Regions from separate parts of the Homo sapiens genome. Here region 1 is linked to region 2. Evidence: fine-mapped expression QTL. Tissue or cell type: whole blood. Region 2 holds a variant in brackets; the other region holds the start of a gene. All regions are shown on one strand. Distances are between the middles of the regions.

Region 1 (8,100 bases), 64 kb before region 2:
CCAGGCGTGGTGGCAGGCACCTGTAATCCCAGCTACTCGGGAGGCTGAGGCAGGAGAATCACTTGAATCCAGGAGGCAGAGGTTGCAGTGAGCCGAGTTAGCGCCACTGCAGTCCAGCTTGGGCAACAGGGCGAGACTCCATCTCAAAAAAACAAAAACAAAACAAAAAACTTTTATCAGGCCGGACTCAGTGGCTCATGCCTATAATCCCAGCACTTTGGGAACACAAAGTGGAAAGGATCAATTGAGCACAGGAGTTCGAGACTAGCCTGGGCAACATGGTAAGACCCCCCCCCATCTCTACAAAAGATAAAAATTAGCCAGACGTGGCGTGTGTGCCTGTGGGTCCACCTACCTAGAAGTCTGAGGTGGGAGGATCACTTGAGCTCAGGAGTTTGAGGCTGCAGTGAGCTACGATCGTGCCACTGCATTCCACCCTGTGTGACAGAGTGAGACCCTGTCTCTCTTAAAAAAAAAAAAAAAAAAAAGTCCAAAAATCCTTTTTGCAGCCAGGCGAGATGGCTCACATCTATAATCCCAGCACTTTGGGAGGCCTAGGTGGGCGAATCGCCTGAGGTCAGGAGTTCGAGACCAGTCTGGCCAACCTGGTGAAACCCCATCTCTACTAAAAATACAAAAAATTAGCCAGGCATGGTGGTGCACACCTGTAATCCCAGCTACTTGGGAGGCTGAGGCAGGAGAATTGCTTGAACCCAGGAGGTGGAGATTGCAATGAGCTGGGATCGTGCCACTGCACTCCAGCCTGGGAAAGAAGAGCAAACCTCCATCTCAAAATAAATAAATAAATAAATAAATATAAATAAAAAGCAAAAATCCTTTTTGCTTTCAGCAAAAAAAATCTTGCATGAGCAATGTAACTGAATATGTCAGATCTGATGTTTCACCTGGAACTGTGGCTGACAAGGAGCTCCTACAAGGTGTGGAAGTGCCAGCTCCATCTTTTCGCTCATCTGGGTGTGTTAGCATCTTCTTTTTTTTTTTTTTTGTTTATTTGTTTGAGACAGGCTGTACAATGGCATGATCAGAGCTCACTAGAGCCTCCAAATCCTGGACTCAAGCGATCCTCCCGTCTCAGCCTCCTGAGTAGCTGTGACTACAGGTGCACACCACCACTCCCAGATAATTTTTTTTTTTCCGAAGAGATGTGAGGGGGTCTCACTATGTTGCCCAGGCTGGTCTTGAACTCCTGACCTCAAGCGATCCTCCCAGTTCAGCCTCCCAAAGTGCTGGGATTACAGGTATAAGCCACTGCACCCAGTCTGCATCATCTTCAATCTGTGCTTTCTTTTTTTTTTTTTGAGATGGAGTCTTGCTCTGTCACCAGGCTGGGGTGCAGTGGCGCAATCTCGGCTCACCGCAACCTCCAACTCCCTGGTTCAAGCGATTTTCCTGCCTCAGCCTCCCAAGTAGCTGGGATTGCAGGCACGTACCACCATGCCCAGCTAATTTTTGTATTTTTAGTAGAGACGGGGTTTCACCATGTTGGCCAGGATGGTCTCGATCTCCTGACCTCACGATCCACCCGCCTCAGCCTCTCAAAGTGCTGGGATTACAGGTGTGAGCCACCACGCCAGGCCCAATCTGTGCTTTCTTTGCAGGAATTGTTTTCAACTATGAGTCCATTCTGTGAGGGTTAATTTAGTCAAAACTGGATAACATCACTCAACCAAGCTGGCTCAGGCTCACAGCCCCTCCAGGCCACTATGCACTTCTCTGCCCTGCACTGTGGGCACAGCATCAACATGGCCCTGCCCGCTGCATCCAGACGGGATTGGTTAACGGGAGGCAATGGAAGAATAAGAAGAGCAGGGGAGTCAGATCAGAATAGCCCTTCTGGGCCCTCTTCCCCATGAGTCCCCCAGAACTGGGGACCCCTCTTGCACAGCTCCTCTCAGGCAGGCCTCTCCTCCAGGGACCCCCTCTATGCCCCCTTACCCTGGGCTGGTAACTGCTGCCACCCCTCCAACTGTGCCAGTCCTTACTGATCTCCTTTAATCCCCCCTCCCCAGTGCATTGCAAACATCCCCTTTATCAAACTCTCCCCAGTTAGCCCCACTAAGTGGCACTTTCTGTTTCCAGCCAGGGTCCTGCCTGGTATATGCCCTACAGCCAAGTTACAAGGCTCTCATTCCCCTCTCTTTCCTTCCCCTTTTTTTCCCTCCCTATCTTTTTTGACAGGGTCTCTGTCACCCAGGCTAGAGTGCAATGGTGCAATCATAGCTCACTGCAGCCTCAACCTCCTGAGGTCAAGTATCCTCCCACCTCAGCCTCCCAAGTAACTAACTACAGGCATGAGCCACCATGCCTGGCTAATTAAAAAAAAAAAAAAAAGTCTGGGCGCGGTGGCTCACGCCTGTAATCCCAGCACTTTGGGAGGCCAAGGTGGGTGGATCACCTGAGGTCCAGAATTCGAGACCAGCCTGACCAACATGGAGAAACCCCGTCTCTATTAAAAATACAAAATTAGCCAGGTATGGTGGTGCATGCCTATAATCCCAGCTATTCCAGAGGCTGAGGCAGGAGAATGGCTTGAACCCGGGAGGTGGAGGTTGCTGTGAGCTGAGATCGCACCATTGCACTCCAGCCTGGGCAACAAGAGTGAAACTCCATTTCAAAAAAAAAAAAAGTTAGAAGAGACAGGGTTTCACTTCATTGCTTAAGCTGATCTCCAATTCCTGGCCCCACGTGATGCTCCCACCTTGGCCTCCCAAAGTGCTGGGATTATAGGTGTGAGCCACTGTGCCCAGCCTTCTTTCTCATGAGAAATTAAAAATTCTGGCCAGGCGTGGTGGCTCACACCTGTAATCCCAGCACTTTGGGAAGCCGAGGAGGGTGGATCACCTGAGGTCAGGAGTTCAGGACCAGCCTGGTCAACATGGTGAAACCTCATCTCTACTAAAAATACAAAAATTAGTCGGTCATGGTGGTGCACGCCTGTAATATCAGCTACTCGGGAGGCTAAGGTGGGAGAATTGCTTGAACCTGGGAGGTGGAGACTGCGGTGAGCCGAGATCCCGCCACTGCACTCCAGCCTAGGCAACAGAGCGAGACCGAATCTAAAAAAAGAAAAAAAAAATCTAGTATTTTCTTCCCACCCCACGTAATTGTTTTGCACCCAGGGGTGAGTGCCCCCCACTTTGCAGACGTGCCTAGACCTCTCCCCACAAACATGATGACTAGAGTTGGAGCTGGGCTAGCGCTGCCTCTTGTTCACTGGGTTCACGTGGGCACGTGGCTCCACTCCGGTCACTGCTTCCTGGGCAGAGGGATGACGTGGAAGGTAGACCTAGGGGGGACAGGGTTGCTTCCTGCCCATGTCCAGCATTCTAGAATTGTCCACATCTAGGCAGGGCGTTCCACCATCAGTGCTGGACTGGACCACCCAATTCCTTTGGACGCTTGACTCAGCCCAAACCCGTGCTCCCTCCAGGACCCTGGGCAGGGCAGCCCCAGCTCCAGGTAATCGGCACTGAGAAGAGTACACCTGTCACCGCCTGGCAGGGGCTCGCTCCTTTCTCTGGTGCTGCTCATTCGCGAGGCCTGAGACGCGGACCGTCACCTTCCCCGGGCCCAGCCTGGCCTCAATGCAGGCCTCAGAGAGAGGGACAAAACCCGGCCCGCCTCCCTCCCCTCCCCAAGGCGACCACCAGTGTCCTGGGGGTCCACAGGGCCTCTCCAGCTCTGATCCGAGTTCCCGGCTGCAGCTGGTTTGGGTCTGTGGGGGCCTCGCGCAGGGAAGCGGAGGCCCCTTCTCTAGGCTCCTACATCCTCCTGGCCTGCCCCAGCAGAGCTAGCGGCCCTCCGAGACAGCTGGGCCTCGCAGCTCCCAGCCGAGGCCTGTCGCTGGGAGAAAGAAGAATGAATGAAGGGCGGAAGGGGCGGGGAGGGGCGGGGCGCGCCGCGCCAGCTCGCGGCGCCCCCAGGCCGGGCCGCAGCGGGGCGTGGCCTCTAGAGGCGTGGCCTTGGGCGTGGGGGCGGGGTTTTCTGGTGGGGGCGGGGCCGCGCAGGGCCGTTCCCGCCGCCGGCCGCCCGCGCCCCGCCCCCGTGCCGCAGCTCACAGGCCCCGCCTCGGTCCGCCCCTCCGCTCGCTCCCCAAGCCGCCGCGGCGCCGAGCCGGTTTCCCCGCCGGTGTCCGAGAGGCGCCCCCGGCCCGGCCCGGCCCGGCCCGCGCCCTCCGCCCCCGCCTCCCCGGGCCGGCGGCGGTGGGCGAGCTCGCGGGCCCGGCCGCCCCCAGCCCCAGCCCCGCCGGGCCCCGCCCCCCGTCGAGTGCATGAGGTTGACGCTACTTTGTTGCACCTGGAGGGAAGAACGTATGGGAGAGGAAGGTGCGCGGGCCGCGGGGTGTGGGGCGAGGGCCTGGAGGGGGTGCCCGGGGCAGCGTGGGGCACGGGAGGGGGCCGGGTCTGCCAGGAGGCCGCGCCCCTGCCTCCTCCGGGATGAGCTCGTCCTTACGAAGCCCGCAGGCCCCTCCCTGTCCCCCTCCCGCCCGGGATCCCCCTCCCCGGCCCCCGGCGAGCTGCCCTCCTGCGGGTCTGGGGGCCCCTGGACCCTTTTTCCTCCTCCCACGTCCCCCCGCGAAGGACTCCCAGACACTGCCCACCCCGCGTCGGCCTCCATCCGCGTGCTCTGTCCACCACCCGGGCCTCGCCCTGGGGCCACCCTTTATCCAGTCTCGGAAGAAAGAGCGGCTGGGGAAGCCGCAGCCCCGGGTCCCAGTGGCCGCCGGGCGCCTGCCCGGCTCTGTGACCTTGAGCCAGGCGCTGACTTCCTGGTCCTCAGTTTCCCCTTCTGTACATTTGGAAACTGGGTAGTTGCCCCCCCGGTGTCGGTGATTGGGGGCCAGATGGGTAGAGCGGAGATAGGCGTCCAGGAAGCCGGAGGCCGTGTACTGCGGGAGCCTCATCCACTCTCCCTGTCCGTGCCCCAAACCCGGTGCCTGCCCTCAGTCTTGGCTGGGAGCATGACTCATCCTAACCTCCTCTTTAGCCCCTTCTCCCTCACTGGGGCCCAAGGCGCAGTACTGCACTGCAGTTAGGGTTCAAGGACTCCCCCAGCCTAGGACAGGGTCTGGGGGCCCCTCCTTGGATCTCCTTCGCTGACCTGTCACTTAGATCCACCTGGCCCCAAGGCAGGGCCTGACTCCACACCTCCCCCTGCCACCAACTCTTCCCAGGCCCATGAAAACCTGATTGGGGTAGGGGCCCACCTTCCTGTAGCCCCTGCCTACCTAAGGTACCTGCGTCTTCACAGAGGGTCAGGCTGTTGTGGCCTTGGGACCTAGCTATGTGACTGGGCAAGCCATGCCATCTCTGGGGCTCAGTCTCCCCTTCTGTACAGTGGAGAGGGGCAGGTCTGGGGCATTTTCCAGGGCCCACCAGCTCCAAGGGTGCCAGGCCCCAAGGATGACTAAGCATGCCTGTGGCTGGCTAGAGGAGGTGCCAGGCCTCCCTGGGACAGGTGTCTGGGAGTACCCAGGTCTGCAGCCCCCTCCCCTTGCCAAGCCAGGGCATTCATTGCCAAGGATCTGTTAGGGCCGGCACCTCCAGGCTTCCTGCCCTTGACCTCCCAGCTGGCTTCAGCCCAGGATGCACTAATCCAGCCCTGTCCAGTCCCTGCCTTTGAAGGGCCCTCTTAGTACTTCTTCCTGGGCAGGAGAGGGAAGAAAGGAGGCTGTGATAGGAATGTCACCCACTGCCTTATCCCTAAAGCCACTGCTTCCTTTCTCCTCATTTACCTTGCCAGATCCAATGCTATAGCGGGAGGATGGACCTGATCCTCCTCCTAAGCTGATACATAGGGAAACAGGGCCAGAGAAGCTTGGCAACCTAGTCAGTATCTCAGCAAGACTCAGGCCAGCGCCCTTTCTTCTCCTATTTGGCACAGCGACTGCCCTGCCTGGGCGCTGCACATGTGCAGTGTGCGAGGATTGGTGCAGGTGTAGGTATATGTGGGGTGGGCAGGGCAAGCTGGGCCTGCACCAGATCACACTTCCTGAGAATGCTTCCCAACTCCCTTCCCACCCTGCAGGAAGCGAGTTGCCCGTGTGTGCAAGCTGCGGCCAGAGGATCTATGATGGCCAGTACCTCCAGGCCCTGAACGCGGACTGGCACGCAGACTGCTTCAGGTAGGGTGGGGTGCCCAGGGCCTGTGTTGCCCTAAACAAGGCCTGCCAGAGAGGACAGGCTGGTCAAGGAATGGGGGAGGCCGGGATATGCCTCCTGGTGCCGTCCCCTATTGTGACTTCGTGGCCTTAATTTACCATTTATGACATGAGGTGTTTTGACTAGAAAATCCCTACAGGCCTTCCTGTTGTCATTTTATTTATCTATTTTTTTTTCTTTTTGAGACGGAGTCTCGCTCTGTCACCCAGGCTGGAGTACAGTGGTGCGATCTTGGCTCATTGCAACCTCTTCCTCCTGGGCTCACGCAGTTCTCCTGTGTCAGCCTCTGGAGTAGCTGGGATTACAGGCGTGCACCACCACGCCCAGCTAATTTTTGTATTTTTAGTAGAGACGGGTTTTGCCATGTTAGCCAGGCTGGTCTGAAACTTCTGACCTCAAGTGATCTTCCCACCTCAGCCTCCCAAAGTGCTGGGATGACAGACATAAACCACCGCTCCTGGCCTCATTTTATTTTCTTTTATGTATTTTTCTTTTTTCGAAATGGTCTTGCTCTGTTGCCCAGGCTGGAGTGCAGTGGTGCCATCTCGGCTCATTGCAACCTCCATCTCCCGGGCTAAAGTGATCCTCCTACTTCAGCCTCCCGAGTAGCTGGGATTATAGGTATACACCACAATGCTCAGCTAATTTTTTAAATTTTGTGTAAAGACAGGGTCTCACTATTGAGACCCAGGCTGGTCTTGAACTTGTGACCTCAAGCAATCCTCCTGCCTTGGCCTCCGAAAGTGCTAGGCTTACAGGCGTGAGCTAACGCCTTGGCCTCTGTTGTCATCCTAGATCTCTGAGATCTAAATCTTAGAGAGGATGGGAGAGACCTCCAATTGAGCCAGTGCCTGCAATTCAGCCCCCTGCTGGCACCCAGACAGGGGGAAGAGTTGGAAGGAATGTCCCTCCTGCCTTCTGGGTGTTCATGCTCTTGCAGGGAGGGAAGACAAACCAGGCCTTAAGGGAAACCAGGCCACCCTCAGTGTCTTCCAGGCTGCTTGCGAACATGCATAACCCAGTCACACCAGCCCCAGTGTCCAGACACACACCCACAGGTAGGAAGAAAGTAGGGTCAGGGTTGTGGCGGAGGATAAAGAGTACATGAGGACCTGAAGGTCACCCAGTAGGACCATCCTGAGAAGCCAGGAGCAGGGGTCTACCTGCCTTGAGCCAGAGCAGGGCCAGAGCAGGGGTCTCAAAGGATGTGAGATTTCCTGGGTAGAAAAGTAGAGTGGAGGTGGGGCGTGGTGGCTCACACCTATAATCCCATCACTTTTTGGGGCTGAGGTGGGCAGATCACTTGAGTTCAGGAGTTCGAGACAAGCCTGGGCAATATGGCAACACCCTGTCTCCACTGAAAATACAAAAAATTAGCCGGGCGTGGTGGCGCATGCCTGTAGTCCCAGCTACTCAAGAGGCTGAGGTGGCAGGGTTACTTGAGCCTGGGAGGTGGAGGCTGCAGTGAGCTATGATCGCACCACTGCACTCTAGCCTGGGCAATAGAGCGAGACCCAGTCTCAATTTTTAAAAAAGAAAGAAAGAAAAACAAATGGTGTGGGAGAGAATTACAGGCATAGTCACCAAACAGCAAGGTTCAGGGGAGAAAACTCCATAAAAGGGTAGAAGGTGAAGCTTCTGGGATGCCCAGCAGGGGTCAAGACATCCACCACTAGGACTTTATTTTAGGCTTCTGCCTTGGTTTATTTTTTGGTTTTTGGTTTTTTTGAGACAGTCTTGTTGTGTCGCCCAGGCTGGGGAGCAGTGGCGCGATCCCTCCTCACTGCAACCTCCGCCTCCCAGGTTCAAGCGATTCTCCTGCTTCAGCCTCCCAAGTAGCTGGGATTACAGGTGTGCACCACCACGCCCGGCTAAGTTTTGTATTTTCAGTAGAGATAGGGTTTTGCCATGTTGGCCA
Region 2 (8,100 bases):
TCCGTGACCACGCCTGGCTAATTTTTTTGTATTTTTAGTACAGACGGGGTTTCACTCCGTGTTAGCCAGGATGGTCTCGATCTCCTGACCTCGTGATCTGCCCACCTCGGCCTCCCAATGTGCTGGGATTACAGGCGTGAGCCACCGCACCCGGCCACCTTCCCTCCTTTTTCATTTCTTTCCTCCTTCCCCTCCTGCCCACTCTTTCTCCTTTAAATATTGAAGTCCTCAAAACTCTCTGGAAAAGCCATGGGTCACAGATTTTTCTTTGGCTTGGGTCTCTTTTTCCTGGGCATGTCCTCAACCTTAGCAAAATAAACCTCTAAATTCATTGAGTCCCCTCCTCTCCCCTCCCCTCCTCTTCCCTTCCCTTCCCTTCCCCTTTCTTTGAGACAGGGTCTCACTCTGTCATCCAGGCCAGGGTACAGTGGTGCAAATGATAGGGACAAGAGGCAGGGAAATTCTGGGCAGAAGAGGGTGGGTCCCCAGAGAGGGCATTGCCCTCAAGCTGAAAAACCTGGAACTGCAGCCCAAAGTGAGAACTGACATCCCTGTTTTTTGTTTTTTGGTTTTTTTTTGAGATGGAGTCTCCCCTTCTGTCACCCAGGCTGGAGTACAATGGTGCGATTTTGGCTCACTGCAACCTCCACCTCCCGGGTTCAAGTGATTCTCCTGCCTCAGCCTCCCGAGTAATCCGAGCCGGGATTACAGGCACACACCACCACACCCGGCTAATTTTTGTATTTTTATTAGAGAAGGGGTTTCACTATCTTGGCCAGGCTGGTGTTGAACTCCTGATTTCGTGATCCACCCTCCTTGCCTCCCAAAGTGCTGGGATTACAGGCATGAGCCACCGTGCCCAGCCAACATCGCTGCTTTCCTGCTTGAATGTTGCCTTTTCCAAAACCACCCTTGACCTGCCCTGCCCCCAATCCTGTGCCCATAAAAACCCCAGGCCCAGCTAGCAGAGAGAGGAGAAGCAGCTGGACGTCAAAGACCATGGTTGAACATTGGAGAGAAGTGGCTTGACTTCAGAGGGACAGTTTGCTGGAGTAGCTTTGGAGGAGTATGGCCAGGGACAGCTGGACTTCAGAGAAAGATTACCTTCCTGCTCTGTCCCCTTTTCAGCTCCCCTTCCCGCTTAGAGCCACTTTCATCAGCAATAAAGTCTCCTGCATTTACCATCTTCAATTCATTTGTGTGACCTAATTCCTCCTGGACACTGAAAAAGAACTTGGGTGCCACGAGTGTGGATGCAAAAGGCTGTCACACCGATCCTCCACTAAGCTGTTAACACTTAAGCCATTCACAGACAGCAGAGCTAAAAGAGTACTCTAACACTGCCTCTGGGGCTTCAATAGTCTCCGGCACCCTCCGCTAGACACTATCATGGGGCTGGTATGGAGATGGCTCTTGCTGGCGCCTAAAAACTCTCGCCCCGTCTCCTGCACCTGCTCACCTGTGCTCCCTCTCCTGTGAGGGGTGGAGTAGTGAGTGAGTGGAGTTCACCCCTACCAGCACCAAAGCAGCTGGCTAGTTCTTAGGCAACATCCTGCTTCACAATCACAGCTCACTGCAACCTCCCACCTCCCAGGCTCAAGTGTTCCTCCTGCCTCAGCCTCCCAAAGTGCTGGGATTGCAGGCATGAGCCACCATGCCCAGCCAGTCATTTTCTTTGGTTTACACTACTTTACCTCCCTGAGCCTTATTTTCCCCAAATGAGAGGTAGAAACTCCTCTGTTGGGAGGATTAAATGAGATATGTCTCAAATTTTTGTTGAAAACTGGACATTTTATTTTATCTTATTTTACTTATTTTTGAGACAAGGTCTCACTCACTCTGTCACTCAGGCTAGAGTGCAGTGGTGCAATCTTGGCTCCCTGAAAGCTTAACCTCCTGGGCTCAAGTGATCCTCCTGTCTCAGCCTCCTGAGCAGCTGGGACTATAGGCTCCAGCCACCACACTTGGCTAATTTATTTTTATTTTTATTTTTTGTAGAGACAGAGTCTCACTATGTTGCCTAGGATGGTCTGGAACTCCTGGGCTCAAGTGGTTCTCCTGACTCGGCCCCACAAAGTGCTGGCATTACAGGTGTGAGCCATGGCACCCAGCAAAAACTGGACATTTTAAATCATGTATTGTAATTCTAAATTCTGATGTCCTGGTGGTAGCTGTTGTAGATTTTGACATTGTTGTTGTTTGCTGGTTGTCTGTTTGGTTGTTTAATAACTTGAAGCCACTAAAGGAAGCCTCTGTTTTGTTTTGTGATTCTTGCTTTTATTTTCAAGACTGGCTTCCTAGGGGTCCATCTCTGAATCAGCATTGCTTAGTGCCCAGCCACTGTTTGGTCAGAAGGTTTCCGTAAACACCTTGACACACTAAGCCTTCCTTGGTCAAGAGGACCTGTGAGGGGGGTTGGGACACAGGTTAAATTATTTCCTCAAGGGCGTTGACATTTCTTTCTTTTTTCTTTTTTTTTTGAGATGGAGTCTGTCTCTATTACTCAGGCTGGAGTGCAGTAGCATGATCTTGGCTCACTGCAACCTCTACCTCCCAGGTTCAAGCGATTCTCCTGCCTCAGCCTCCCGAGTAGCTGGGATTACAGGCGCCCGCCACCACACCCAACTAATTTTTGTATTTTAGTAGAGATGGGGTTTCACCACCATGTTGGCCAGGCTGGTCTGGAACCCTCGACTTCAAGTGATCCACCTGCCTCAGCCTCCCAGAGTTTGGGATTACAGGTGTGAGCCACCACACCTGGCCTCTTTTTTTCTTTTCTTTTTTTTTTTTTTTTTGAGATGGAGTTTCGCTCTTGTTGCCCAGGCTGGAGGGCAATGGCATGATCTCGGCTCACTGCAACCTCTGGCTCCCGGGTACGAGCAATTCTCCTGCCTCAGCCTCCCAAGTAGCTGGGACTATAGACATGCGCCACACGCCTAATTGTTTGTATTTTTAGTAGAGATGGGGTTTCACCATGTTGACCAGGCAGGTCTCGAACTCCTGACCTCAGGAGATCTGCTCACCTCAGCCTCCCACAGGTATGAGCCACCATGCTCAGCTTTATTTTGTTTTATTTTATTTTATTTTATTTTATTTTATTTGAGACAGAGTCTCGCTCTGTCGCCCAGGCTGGAGTCCAGTGGAGCTATCTCGGCTCACTGCAACCTCTGCCTCTCAGGTTCAAGCAATTCTCATGTCTCAGTCTCTCAAGTAGCTGGGATTACAGGTGTGTGCCACCACGCCCAGATAATTTTTTTATTATTAGTTTTAGTAGAGTCGGGGTTTTGCCATGTTGCCCAGCCTGGTCTTGTACTCCTGACCTCAAGATATCCACCCGCCTCGGCCTCCCAAAGTGCTGGGATTATAGGCATGAGCCACCATACCCGGCCTCTTTTTTTAATTTTTATGGATATGTGGTAGGTATATGTATTTATGAGGTACATGAGATATTTTGATACAGGCATACAATGCATCATAATCACATCAGAGTAAATGGGGTATCCATCATCTCAAACATTTATCATTTCTTTGTTACAAACATTCCAATTATGCTCTTCTAGTTATTTTTAATTGCATAATAAATTATTGTTGACTGCCCAGGCACAGTGGCTCACGCCTGTAATCCCAGCACTTTGGGAGGCCGAGGCAGGTGGATTGCCTGAAGTCAGGAGTTCAAGACCAGCCTGAACAACATGGAGAAATCCCGTCTCTACTAAAAATACAAAATTAGCCAGGTGCAGTGGCGCATGCCTGTAATCCCAGCTACTTGGGAGGATGAGGTAGGAGAATCTCTTGAACCCAGGAGACAGAGGTTGCGGTGAGCCGAGATCGCACCATTGCATTCCAGCCTGGGCGACATTTTGTATGACATTGCTTAACCATAAACTCTTCATTTGCTTTTGTTTTTCTTTTCTTTTTTTTTGAGACGGAGTCTCGCTCTGTTGCCCACGGGTTCCACCGTGTTAGCCAGGATGGTCTCGATCTCTTGACCTTGTGATCCGCCAGCCTCGGCCTCCCAAAGTGCTGGGATTACAGGTATGAGCCACCACCC[G/A]CGGCCTGTTTTTCATTTTATTGTCTGAGAATCCCTTGCAGCCTGGGGGCATAGATTCGGGGAATTCTCCCACTCCTCACTTTCTTTTCTTCCTTAGGAATATCTTGGCCAGGTGCAGTGGCTTACACCTGAAATCCCAGAACTTTGGCAAGCTAAGGCAGGAGGAATGCTTGAGGTCAGGAGTTTGAGACCCGCCTGGGGAACAAAGTGAGATCCTATCTCTATTTAAAAAATAAGAATAATGGCCAGTCTTGGGGGATCACTCCTGTAATCCCAGAACTTTGGAAGGCAGAGGTGGGAGGATCACTTGAACCCACAAGGTTGAGGCTGCAGTGAGACGAGATTGTTCTGCCACACTCCAGCCTGGGTGGCAGAGTGAGACCCTGTCTCAAAACAACAACAACAATTAAAAAAAAAAAAAAAAGAATATCTTTATTTCTGACTTGGGGGCTTGCAGGTGGCTGAACTATTTCTGTGGAATGATCTGGAAACCCACACATATGTGAAGCCAGGTCAGGGCTTTGAATTCTTTGAATTATCAGGCTGAGGCAGGCAAGTTTGTCACTCCTCAAGGTAGATGAACTCATGATCTCCAGTCTACCCTTTCACAGACTGTGTGGCTTTTCAAGGATCACATTTCAAAGGGATCTCAGGCACAATTTCCATTTGAACTGGGTCCAGATACAATTTCCATTTGAACTGGACCTCAATGTAGTAGTCTCTCATTGTCTGAAGTATCACTCGGAGTTCTTTGTCTCACAACCATGAAAATTAAGGAGCATGGGCACCAAGGATGAGGCTGGAGTGAAAGTTTAATAAGCTAAAGAAGAAAGCTCTCTGCCGTGGAGAGGGGGTCTGAAAGAGGCCATTATTATTTATTTATTTATTTGAGACAGAGTTTCACTCTTGTTGCCCAGGCTGGAGTGCAATGGCATGATCTCGGCTCACCACAACCTCCACCTCCCGGGTTCAAGTGATTCTCCTGCCTCAGCCTCCTGAGTAGCTGGGATTATAGGCATGCACCACCACACCCAGTTAATGTTGTATTTTCAGTAGAGACGGGGTTTCTCCATGTTGGTCAGGCTAGTGTCGAACTCTCCTCAGGAGATCCACCCACCTCGGCCTCCCAAAGTACTGGGATTACAGGCATGAGCCACCGTGCCCAGCCAAAAGAGGCCATTTTTACAGTTGAATGCAAAAGCTTTTATAAGAAACCAATGAGGGCTGGGCATTTCATTTACATAAGGTGTGAATTTCTCCTATCTCCACCCCATCCTTCTAATGCGCATGGGGGCCCTTAGCTTAATTTACTCCATATTGCTTTAATTTTTTTTTAAATTAGCCATATTTTGCAAAAAAAAAAAAAAAAAGTGCATACATCCTATAATGTCCTATTTTATCTAGTAACTCTAGCCTAGGGCCTCATCTCCTGACCTGACACGGGCATTAAAGCAAGCTCCTGGCCACTGACCCTCAGTGACCATTCAGAGCAGAGACGTGATCAATTCATTGCCTATCATCTGTGGCGTTTAGTTTCCTCTTTGTTTCTGGATTCCTAGGATTTCCCTTTCTTTCATGGGAGCTCAACTGGGCATTGAAAATAATTTTTTTTAATTGTATTAAACATTTCAAAGAGTTTCAATAGGAAGGTTTTCTGGTTCTCCCTGCCTGACAAATCAGAAACATATGGAGAGGTTTTTCAGTACATGTTTCATAGCCCTTCTTTCTCTGCCAAAATTCTGATATAGCCCCCTGGAGAACAACAAAATCTGGATGGAGTTTGGGCCAGAATTGGGGTGGGGTATAGATTGGCTCCTATGTGCTTGGAAAATAACTCACAACCCACTTTCCCAGTGTTGATTCAATTCTTTGTGTCTTAGACATTTTTTCTCATTTTGTTTTGTTTGAGACAGGGTCTCGCTCTGTCACCCAGGCTGGAGTACAGTGGCACAATCTTAGCTCACTGTAGTCTTGGCACCCCCGGGCTCAAGCCATCCTCCCGCCTCAGCCTCCCACATAGCTGGGACTACAGATGCGCACCACCATGCCTGGCTAAGTCTTTTTTTTTTTTTTTTTTTTTGAGACGGAGTCTCGCTCTGTCACCCAGGCTGGAGTGCAGTGGCGTGATCTCGGCTCACTGCAAGCTCCGCCTCCCAGGTTCACGCCATTCTCCTGCCTCAGCCTCCAGAGTAGCTGCTGGGACTACAGGTGCCCACTACCACACCCGACTAATTTTTTGTATTTTTAGTAGAGATGGGGTTTCACCATGTTGGCCAGGATGGTCTCGATCTCTTGACCTCGTGATCCACCCGCCTCGGCCTCCCAAAGTGCTGGGATTACAGGCGTGAGCCACCGCGCCCGGCCAATTTTTTGTATTTTTAGTACAGACAGGGTTTCACCATGTTAGCCAGGTTGGTCTTGATCTCCCGACCTTGTGATCCGCCCGTCTTGGCCTCCCAAAGTGCTGGGATTACAGGTGTGAGCCAGCACGCCCGGCCCTGGCTAAGTCTTAGACTTTTGTTTCCCCAACGTCTAACACAGTTTCATGGCCCATAGAAGATACTGAGTGCATGAATGAGGAATGCACGAATGACTCTTGGCAGACACTTCGTGGTCAGCATAAAAGAGGGAGAAAGCTGGCTGGGCAAAGTGGCTCACACCTGCAATCCCAGCACTTTGGGAGGCCGAGGCCAGTGGATCACGGGAGGCTGAGGCTGGTTCAAGACCAGCCTGGCCAACGTGGTGAAACCCATCTCTACTAAAAATACAAAAAATTAGTTGGGCGTGATGGCAGGCGCCTATAATCCCAGCTATTCAGGAGGCTGAAGCAGGAGAATCTCCTGAACCCAGGAGGCAGAGACTGCAGTGAGCTGAGATCGTGCCATTGCACTGCAGCCTGGGCAACAAGAGTGAAACTTCGTCTCAAAAAAAAAAAAAAAAAAGGGGGAGGGAGCGGATAAAGCTTATCTTGCATGTCTAATATATGATCAAACTAGATGGTACCCGATACAGCAGAGCACATAGTAATTGCTCGAGAAAGGTCATTATCCAGCAGAGCACAGTGGTTCATGCCTGTAATTCCAGCACTTTGGGAGGCTGAGGCAGGAGAATCATTTGAGGCCAGGAGTTCAAGACCAGCCTGGGCAACATTATGAGACCATCCCCCATCTCTACAGAAAAGTTTTTACAAATTAGCTGGGCATGGTGGGGTGTGCCTGTAGTCCCACCTACTTGGGAGGCTGAGGTGTGAGCATCACTTGAACCCAGGAATTTGACGCTGCAGTGAGCTGTGATTGCACTGCTGCACTCCAGCCTTGGTGGCAGAGTGAGACTCCAGATAAATAAATAAATGGAGGAGCTCACCACCATCCCCATGGGCTGAGCCAGGCTCGCACCACTGCACTCCAGCCTGGGCGACAGAGCGAGACCCTGTCTCAGAAAATAAAAAGAATTTTTTTTTTTTTTGAGACACAGTCTCGCTCTGTCGCCCAGGCTGGAGTGCAGCAGTGTGATCAGGGCTTACTGCAGCCTTGCACTTTTTGATGTTGTTGTTGTTCTTAGTTTCTTTGTTTGTGTTTAACGCTAAAAGATATTCTCCAGCAGAGAGCTGGTGCCATCAACAAGGAAAGAGAAAAAAGGAGAAGGGGCTCAAGTACTTGATACTTGATCACAGTCACGATATTCTCTAACAGAGAAGGCAGGGGCTTGATTTAAATAAGGCCGGGCACGGTGGCTCACGCCTATAATCCCAGCACGTTGGGAGGCTGAGGTGGGCAGATCACCTGAGGTCAGAAGTTCAAGACCAGCCTGGTCAACATGGCGAAACCCGTCTCTACTAAAAATACAAAAATTAGCCGGGCGTGGTGGTGGGCGCCTATAGTCCCAGCCATTCGGGAGGCTGAGGCAGGAGACTTGCTTGAACCCAGGAGGTGGAGGTTGCAGTGAGCCAAGATCGTGCCACTGCATTCCAGCCTGGGCAACAGAGTGAGACTCTGTCTCAAAAAAAAGAAAAAGAAAAAAAGAAAAAAATTTTAATACAAAAACAGCAA

Evidence for each region. PIP is the estimated chance that this variant, and not a neighbour inherited with it, causes the effect.
Region 1: LIMK1 starts here. The variant in region 2 is fine-mapped to the expression of LIMK1 in whole blood (INTERVAL, PIP above 0.99).

The regions. Positions count from the first base shown.
Region 1 is chr7:74,079,700-74,087,799 of GRCh38, forward strand. It overlaps LIMK1 (LIM domain kinase 1), which reads left to right and starts at 4,105. Exons shown (of 16, transcript NM_002314.4): 1 at 4,105-4,346; 2 at 6,049-6,145. The coding sequence starts at 4,292. RefSeq lists enhancers at 2,805-3,483, 3,479-3,588, 3,484-4,162, 4,649-4,918, 5,430-6,029 and 1 more and silencers at 3,859-4,128, 4,249-4,298, 4,409-4,458.
Region 2 is chr7:74,144,004-74,152,103 of GRCh38, forward strand. No RefSeq gene overlaps it. Among named protein-coding and RNA genes, the nearest start is that of EIF4H, 26 kb to the right of the region's middle. The variant G/A (reference allele first, on the strand shown) is at 4,052.